3 separate regions of the Homo sapiens genome follow, and all the other regions are reported to be linked to region 1. The links are microRNA targets in miRTarBase. Many come from high-throughput screens and were not tested one by one. Region 1 holds a microRNA gene; each other region holds the end of a gene's coding sequence.

Region 1 (3,191 bases):
GGTGCAATTTGCCTGACTCTGCCCAGAGACACATGCTCAGCTGCATGCATCAACACCTTCCTGGGAAGCAAGCTCCCTAGGCACACAGGAGGCCAGTGATCATGAAGCCCTCCAGCACCACACAGCCTCTCTTCCTGCTACAAAAAGGAGTAGCACTCGAGCCCTGCCCCTCCCGACTCCCAGTCCTCTGAAGGTTCTGGGTGCTGGCTCTCCCACTAGGATAAACCTGGCCCACCAAGAAGCACACCATATTCAAGAAGGGCAGGTTTTTAGGGCTGAGACATCACAGTACACACCAGCTGGCCAGTGCACACGCATTTCTTCATTCATTCAAGCACTCCTTCATTCCTTCAAGCATCCATGGAGCCTTGATCCCTGGTGCTGAATTTGGGCTAAATGAAAAATGCAGGGGCCCCAATGAAGCTTCAGTCAGCTCCACTCCTCCAGCTGCCATCCAGGTGACATGCAGCTTGCCCTCCACTCGTGGGCACAGGGGGTCCCAATAGAAACAGGGAAACCTCCTCCTAACCCACAGCTGTGCAGAGTATCATGCTGGACTGAGGTCAGCTTCCCAGGACAGCCCCCACTCCATGCGGCCTGCCTCATATGCCACTAGACCCAGCACACAGAAGAGGAAGAGCCAGCTTAACCAGAGAGGCCAAGAGCAGTGGAGCCGGGAGGGCAGTTCGCCCATGAGGACAGACCGTGGGTAAGCCAGCAACTGGGAAATGCCCCATCCTGCTGGTGGCCACAGACATAAGAATTCAAAGACTAGTTATCAAACCTGAAAGAGTACAGTATCACCAGTGCCTGTGAGACAGGAGTAAAACTAACATTAACACAACCCTTATAAATTTGCCCACTCAGGGATTATAGAGAAAATGGATTAACATCAGGATGTTGACTTTTTGTTTCATGAAATCCACCTCAGGAAATCCAGGTCTAGCATCCTCAGGGAAGTTCCATCAAGAGGAAGGCATCTCTGGTTACGCACATATTTACCTGCAAACCAGGTATGTATACACACATATGCCCAGTGGGCGCATGCACAGCCGCACTCATCCTTGTTCACAGAAGATGCAAATCTCGGTCTGTGTATAAAGTGTGTCTGCACATGCAGAGAGGAGCCATGCACAACGCTCAGACATATGTGCAGGCATTCCAGACACAGCTTTGGGCCAATGAGTGGTCACACAATGAAGACAACTAGGAAATATCTTCTGTGACTCCAAATCCTAAATTTCTTCAGGTTTACATTATATTTTCATAAATTCCTTACCGTCATTCCTAAAGTAGATTCAACTGAAAGCGGCTCCTCATATTGTAGCGTCAGGCTTCCCTACTCTCTACCTCCAGGTGAAGAGTATCTGTAAGTATCTGAGCATCCACAGATAATCACACAGCATCCCTAAGTATCTAAGTACATATAAGTAATCATTTAGTGTCTATAATTACCCAAGTATCTGTTAGTAATAATTTGGCATCAGTAGGTACCCAAGTATGTGTAAGTAATTATTTAGTATCTATAAATACCTGAATAGTTATGACTAATCATTTCTCATCTGTATTTGGGTACCTGCAAGTAATCATTTAGCATCTGTAAGTACCCCTTTAAAGATAAGCACCCAAATGCCTGTTAGTAATTATTTAGCATCTATAAGTACCCAAGTATCTGTAAGTATTCCTTTAGTATTTGTAAGTACCTGAGTACCTGCTGGTGATTGGCATCTGTAAGTACCTAAGTAACTATAAGTATTCCTTTAAAGCCTGTGCAGGAAGAATCTCCATTCTTCAAATGAAGATACATAATTCCTTCAGAATGATATTAGGCTGGTGCAAAAGTAACTGCCATTAAAACCAATAGCAAAAACCGCAATTACTTTTGTACCAACCTAATAACATCTTCAGACTGGAACTTAGGCTGGTCTGTGTCCTCAGCCGGTGTGGACTAAGGCTGGTGTCCACTGGGCTCTCCTCAGCGGTCCTATCTTCTGTCAAACCCCCATGTACCTTGCAATCCACATGTTTTAGGCACAAGGTCCCAATGTGCTCTCCCACTCATGCTGTCACTGGGAGCAGTGACTGGGAGCTTAGCTGCCAATCAGCAGGAGGGCAGTGCCAGAGGAAGCTCAGTTCACACAGCCTGTGGGGTCCTCTGCAGGTGTCCACAAGCTGGGATCCCCACTTGCAGTAGACCCTTGGGGTGAGGAAGTACACCCGATGACAGCTGTGACACGCCCTGCTGCTCTGGGAAGTGGTGGCTGCTCCTGGTGCCATGGGAGGCCCATCCCTGACCCAAGAGTCAGGAACCTATCAGCCTGAAGAGGCTGGGAACAGGAGCCGCCCCGACCTGGAATGTTCCCAAAGCAGGGGAGGGGCTGACTGGGCGGGGCCCTTTTCAACTGAAAACTCTTACATGCAGGCTCATGGTCAATGGCCTGTCCACCCACAGGGGCCCTCGGGTAGCTCTGGCCAACACAGGCAGATAGGCTGCAGACTAAGCTAATGTGCATTGTGCATTAATGGAGGGGGGGGGGGTCACATGAGAAGAGGGGGTGTGCCGGAAGGGCAGATATCTCCGGAAGGGTGAGGTGTCCTCACCCACCACAGCTCCTTCAGGGAGGCCTGGGGCCAATTGCTGTGCAGCAGAGAGAGCTACCCAAGCCCCAGTGTCTATAAAACCCACAGTCCATAAAATCTGTAAAACAGGAGGCCAGGCAATATGACCTCTAAACCCTGATGGTCTTACTCCCTTGCTTACTTTATATCTGATTATAAAAGTATTAAGCTCTTGGAAAACAAATTGGAATGTACAGAAAAGTACAAAAGTGGTAGGAAAAACGTAATCTTAACCTTTAACATGTTGGCATATTCCCTCCTAGACCGTCTTCCATTTTAATTGGTTGACACCAGCCATCACATTATGTGTGTAGTGTTTCATTTAATATCATCATAAAGATATCCCCATAGCATTAAAGCCTTGCTGTAAACATCACTGCTGACGACTGCATAATTTCCGATTTACAAGAGGACACTGTCATTTGCCTAGTCATCCCAACTTCATCATTCAACAGTGTAGAATTCTTGATAAATTAAATAAATATCTAAAATATTCATTCTTTATATACTTTTAAATTTGTTATGGTGGATTTTTAACAGATATTACAGATAAAGGGCATGGTCTCTTTAAA
Region 2 (3,078 bases), not on the chromosome of region 1:
ACCAAGAATTCTTGAACTCAGAGACATTTCTCTCTTCTCTTCTAGGCACTGGCTTACTCGGGTGCTCTTACCTTCTAGTCACTTGCCCCATGGGAATGGAATGAGCTGGGAGCCCCCTCCCTGGGTGACTGCTCACTCAGCCTCTGTGATGGCAGTGTGAGCTGGACTGTGTCAGCCACGACTCGAGCACTCATTCTGCTCCCTATGTTATTTCAAGGGCCTCCAAGGGCAGCTTTTCTCAGAATCCTTGATCAAAAAGAGCCAGTGGGCCTGCCTTAGGGTACCATGCAGGACAATTCAAGGACCAGCCTTTTTACCACTGCAGAAGAAAGACACAATGTGGAGAAATCTTAGGACTGACATCCCTTTACTCAGGCAAACAGAAGTTCCAACCCCAGACTAGGGGTCAGGCAGCTAGCTACCTACCTTGCCCAGTGCTGACCCGGACCTCCTCCAGGATACAGCACTGGAGTTGGCCACCACCTCTTCTACTTGCTGTCTGAAAAAACACCTGACTAGTACAGCTGAGATCTTGGCTTCTCAACAGGGCAAAGATACCAGGCCTGCTGCTGAGGTCACTGCCACTTCTCACATGCTGCTTAAGGGAGCACAAATAAAGGTATTCGATTTTTAAAGATATGTAGCTTCTCACTCTCTGCCTCACGATAGGGCAGGGAAGGGGAAAGTCAGGGTCAAGACCTAGTGAGTAGGTGTTCTGGTCATGCTTCCTACATTTTTTTTTTTTTTGGAGATGGAGTCTCACTCTGTCTCTCAGGCTGTAATGCAGTGGCGCGATCTTGACTCACTGCAACCTCCGCCTCCCAGTTTCAAGTGATTTTTTTTTTTTTTTTTTTTTGAGACGGAGTCTCGCTCTATATCACCCAGGCTGGAGTGCAGTGGTGTGATCTCGGCTCACTGCAAGCTCCGCCTCCCGGGTTCACGCCATTCTCCTGCCTCAGCCTCCCGAGTAGCTGGGACTACAGGCGCCCGCCACCACACCCGGCTAATTTTTGTATTTTTAGTAGAGACGGGGTTTCACTGTGTTAGCCAGGAGGTCTCGATGTCATGACCTTGTGATCCATCCGCCTCGGCCTCCCAAAGTGCTGGGATTACAAGCTTTACAGGCGTGAGCCACCGCGCCCGGCTCAAGTGATTCTTGTGTCTCAGCCTCCCAAGTAGCTGTGATTAAAGGCGTATGCCACCACACCTGGCTAATTTTTGTATTTTTAGTGGAGATGGGGTTTCACCATGTTGGCCAGTCTGGTCTTGAACTCCTGACCTCCACTGATCCATGCGCCTCGGCCTCCCAAAATGCTGGGATTACAGGCGTCAGCCACCATGCCCAGCTTAATTTTTTTTTTTTTTTAATTATTTGTAGAGATGGGTTCTTGCTATACTGCCAGGGCTAGTCTCAAACTCCTAGCCTCAAGTGATCCGCCTGCCTCAGCCTCCTGAAGTGTTGGGGTTACAGGCATGTGCTACTGTCCTGGTTACCCTGAAAAATTTTTGGCCAATCCCTGTCATTGTTATTCCAGTGATGCCTCTGGTTATATGAGGCATATGTGGGGTGGGGGAAATATCTGACAGCCCCATTACCAAAAGAAATCTTTATTCTTCAGCAGGTAGACAACATCTGCCAGCCCTGGTCCTCAGGGCCACACTCATATGCACTCACCCCTCAGCAGCATATCGCCCCTTTTCTGACATATAAATGCAAGAGACCCAGGACCCTAGATCTTTCTTCAAACGCAAGTGTCTCACACACACTTATTTTACAAATCCACTAGAAATATGGACTCTTATGTTCTTTGTACAGCCATGCAACAGAGGCCTAGCATTTGTGCTGTGTCTGTGGGAAAGGCAGTCAGAGACCAGTGGTTTCCCTGCTTTGGGGAAGATGGCTCAACAGTTAGTAATCCCAGGTTAGATTGTCAGAACAGTCTAGGCCAGGACTGAGGGCTCAGCTGCCAGGGCTCCCCAACAGAAACCTGTAGGCAAAAAGAAAGTTGGCAGCATTAGTGATGAGGCTCATCTTGGTCCCATCTCTCCCCACGACCTAGAAACTCACCACTCCCCTCTGGCTGACACTGCTTCCTTGCGCACCAGTCTCTTCTTGTCATCCAGGGGTTTGGCTAAGGCCCGAATCACCTGTGGTTTGTACGGCAGCAGCTGTGGAGTCAGAGGATATAATCAACCTTGCTCATCCAAGGCAACTGAAAGTACCGCTTTTTTGATTCTGTACAACTAATATTCTGAGGAAAGCAAAACATCTTTAGTGATTCCAAGGGATGTTAAGTGGCAGGATGGCCTTTCTGTTACCTTCTGGGCCCAAGGAAAAGAATCCTTGGGCCCAGAATTACAAGATCTGTACCTTGTAATTCAGATCTCAATTACACACCAGGGTGGCCAAGCCCACCTGACTAAGGCAAAAAGGTACTTATGTGTCTCTTGAGATGTTCCCAGGCCAGGGAAGGACACCTGAGGTACTTACCACAGGGGTGGGCAGGCGAGTGAGAGCATGCATGCACTGCAGTGCGGCGATCCGGACAGCCTGGAACACAACCACAAGGAGGTGAGAGCATGCCCAGGGAGAGATGCTGGTGCCTAAGAGTTGCTGGGGCTCAACGCACCATGGAAGGGCTAGAGCTGAGGTTCAGAAACTTGGTGACGAGGGTGTCCACGTGAAGACTCATGACTTGGGGTGCTTCCAGTAGAAGAGGCTGAAGGCAGCTGAGGGTGGAGAGCTGCACCACACAGTCAGGGCAGGACAGGGCCTCCAGCAGCAAGGAAAGAAGCTAAGGGGCAATGGGCAAGGTAGGGGATGGCCACATCATGAAGATCCTGGTTCTTGTTCCCTCCCCTTTCTAGCCCCATCTGGGGAAGAATAGCTTTGTCCTTTGCTTAGAAGCTCTGCCTGTGGGACTTACCGTGGGCAGCTCTGGCAAGAGTACAGGCTTGGGCAGCCTGTTAAGTACATGAGAAAGACCCTTCAAGTAGTTTGGCTTCACATCTGTAAAAAATGGAAAGGCTTAGGGGAGAAATTGGACTTAGATATATAGCTTGAGAAATCAATTCCAA
Region 3 (3,078 bases), not on the chromosome of region 1:
GATGTCAAATGACCAAAATTTAGCCTTAGGGCACTAAAGCACATTTGCCCTTTTGAAGCACATACTAGTATGGCACATTTTATTTCACTAAAAGTGATGTTAAACGTGAATGTCTTGTAGACTATTTAAAGAGCCAGTCAAATGGCTAAAAAAACCATTGTTTTTTTGTTATAACTCTTTGTGTCTCCCTCTTTCCATTCTCATCTTATGATATTTCACTCAAAAATTTAGTTACCCACCCCAAAACACATTTCTCTCCCTTCTGCCAGGGTGTAAGAAATGTTAGCATTCTGTCACTAGAAAATAAACACTGAAGAGGAATTAGCATGTTAATGAACAAAGATTAAGGAAGGTAATACTAACAGGATAAAGGAAAATGTAGACCATAAGCATCTGGTCATTCATCATGTACATGTATCATGTCAACCATTATATATTAAATCTTCAAGAGGTAAGTACTTCTGTTTTAGTGTGTTTAACAATGTCAGTTTCGTGGGATTTAGTCTCTGTTCCAGGACCTTCTCTTACATTATGGTAACAGAAAAACAAAGACTGGAGCATGGTTTACAGAGAAATACAAAACACATACAAACATCATAATAAAATAGCCATTTATATCACTATTAGAGAAATATTTTAGAGAAAACATACTTTCACTAGTGGCCTCAAATGCCATCATCCACTTATGTTCTTTAACTATCAACTTTGTTTTTCTAAGAGATGGGATCTCGTTCTGTTGCCAAAGCTGGAGTGCTGAGACATGATCATAGCTGCAGTGAGCTATGATTATAGCTGCAGATGATAGCTGCAGCCCCGAACTCCTAGACTCAAGTGATCCTACATTCAAGTGATCCTCCCAAGTAACTGGGACTCAGACTTGGGCCACCATGCCCAGACATATTTTTTATTTTTGTAGAGATGGGGTTTTGCTATGTTGCCCAGGCTGGTCTCAAACTCCTGGGCTGAAGCAATCCTCCCACCTCAGCCCCGAGTTGCTAGGATTACAGGCATGAGCCACTACACCCAGCAACTGTCAACTTGTAATACAAAAATACCTTCAAGCTGATAATCAAGAACATTTAGTGACTTTAAAAAGCTGACAGAATATTTCCATGCTACACAAAACAGTTCTATACACAGCTTTACAGTTTTAAAGTTCTTTGCTGGCACTTGACTTTATAGTTAACACAATGACTACTGATATCAACGAAATACTGTTTTTAGCTTATATATATTTTCAAAATCAGTATTACCTCACAAAACAGTAAAGAAATATCACTTCTGCTGAAGAATCCTCTAAGATGAACACCAAAACTGTACAGCTAAAACATATTGAGAATCATGTAAATGTTTAAGGCAATAGATAAAAATTTATACAATCCAGTGAAATTTATACATGTCCAGCAGAAAAAAAAGGATTATTCCTGATTAAATGAAGCATGTATCAGGTTTAGATCAACAATACAAACCTACAAAGCAAGTTACTTCTTTTTTAAGGTTTTTTGATGATTTGGTGACACAACTAGAATATAACCTTTTAGATGAAAATTGGTGACTTTGCAAATACACATTCTAAATTCCAAAATTAAAACGAAACTTCTTTTCAAACAGTAGAATCCTGGTTTGTTGTTTTTACTGTCAATGAGCTTATAGCTATTCTCTGTATTATTATAAATGAAGTCACCACTCAGTCACCCTAATACACATATGGTTTTTTTTCTTTTTTTTTTTTCCTTTTTTTTTTTTTTTTTTTTTTGAGACGGAGTCTCACTCTGTCATCCAGGCTGGAGTGCAGTGGCCCAGTCTCGGCTCTCTGCAGCCTCTGACTCCCGGGTTTCAGCAATTCTCCTGCCTCAGCCTCCTGGGTAGCTGGGATTACAGGCGCATGCCACCACGCCCAGCTAATTTTTGTATTTTTAGTAGAGACGGGGTTTCACCATGTTGGCCAGGCTGGTCTTGAACTGACCTCAGGTGATCCACCTGCCTCGGCCTCCCAAAGTGCTAGGATTACAGGCGTGAGCCACCGCGCCCAGCCTGCATTTTTTTCTTCATAGAAGAAAACAAAAGTAAAACTTCCCAAATTATGTTTAACTTATAACACATTTTGTAAAGACCCCTTAGGTTAACCATTTTGGAAGTCTACATTGTTCTGAAGAAAAAGATATGCTTTCAAAACACTATCTAGCAATTCCTAATCATTTTTCTATTATAAAAATTAAAATTCAAAAGTTATTGCCACAGTGCTTGTGGCAGTAAACAGAATGTAAAATGTATCAAAAGACTAAATTAGTGTCATGAAACATAAACATACTAAATAATCAAATAAATACTGGACCCTTAGCACAGAAAATTATTAAAAGGTTGATTTGAGTGTTAAAATTTGTAACATTAAATTACCTTCGTATTTCAAACATTACTTTTTCTAAACCAAACCAGAAGTTAATCAACTTTTCCTCTCCTTTAGGAACAAAAAGGATATTTAAGATATTTTCCAAAACAGTAAAAACAACTTAGTGTTTCAATCTAGTTACAACAAACCCTGTTGATCCTGTGCATTTCACTGAGGCGCTACACGCACCCAAAAATCATCATCAGAAAGAGAACTTGAACTTCCTGACTCAGAGTCTGGCTCACTGAATCCACCTAAGTCCCATTCAGTGCTAGACTCACTTGGTATTTCTTCTTCTTCAGTGAGGAAACTCTGACCAGGTTCAAGGCAGGAAGGATAAACACGAGCAGAGAGGCAAAAAAAGTTAGAATCAAACTGCAAGAGGCCTAATGTGGTACCTATATTAATCCATTGGTCTCCCCTAATATCATATTCATACACAGTCACCCGGTTCTTTTTCCACTGTGGGGTGCGAGAGGTGATGAGCAACAATTTTTGGCCATGCTTGATAATTCTGTAGTTGTTGGTCTCTGAGACCAAGGGAATATTATTCATTTGCCTCCATTCTGCCCTAACTGGGTTGTAGACCTTCATGACTGGGATATCACAGATACAATAGATCTCCTCATTGAAGACGCAGGCTTCCTGAAAGTCATTGCGCTTCAGAGAAACGCACTTCAGCCACATAT

What was found. Region 1 holds the annotated microRNA hsa-miR-548au-3p (UGGCAGUUACUUUUGCACCAG, at 1,831-1,851, opposite strand). A microRNA usually pairs through its seed, bases 2 to 8, with sites in the 3' UTR of a target mRNA and lowers its output. Matches are read on the target gene's strand: a 7mer-m8 pairs with bases 2 to 8, a 7mer-A1 pairs with bases 2 to 7 and ends in A, and an 8mer does both.
Region 2: miRTarBase lists ZDHHC16 as a target of hsa-miR-548au-3p. Seed matches in the 3' UTR shown: 7mer-A1 at 578-584.
Region 3: the mRNA of KBTBD6 is a reported target of hsa-miR-548au-3p. Seed matches in the 3' UTR shown: 7mer-A1 at 2,248-2,254.

The regions. Positions count from the first base shown.
Region 1 is chr9:93,593,534-93,596,724 of GRCh38, reverse strand. It overlaps MIR548AU (microRNA 548au), which reads right to left and starts at 1,884; the gene lies at 1,831-1,884. All of the region lies in intron 1 of PHF2 (PHD finger protein 2), which reads right to left.
Region 2 is chr10:97,456,732-97,459,809 of GRCh38, forward strand. ZDHHC16 (zDHHC palmitoyltransferase 16) reads left to right here. Exons shown (of 12, transcript NM_198046.3): 12 at 46-639. The coding sequence ends at 160. It overlaps MMS19 (MMS19 cytosolic iron-sulfur assembly component), which reads right to left. Exons shown (of 31, transcript NM_022362.5): 27 at 2,928-3,010; 28 at 2,631-2,795; 29 at 2,492-2,551; 30 at 2,069-2,169; 31 at 1,593-1,988. The coding sequence ends at 1,961. Among named protein-coding and RNA genes, the nearest start is that of ZDHHC16, 12 kb to the left of the region's middle.
Region 3 is chr13:41,127,930-41,131,007 of GRCh38, forward strand. It overlaps KBTBD6 (kelch repeat and BTB domain containing 6), which reads right to left. Exons shown (of 1, transcript NM_152903.5): 1 at 1-3,078. The coding sequence ends at 2,558. Among named protein-coding and RNA genes, the nearest start is that of KBTBD6, 3.3 kb to the right of the region's middle.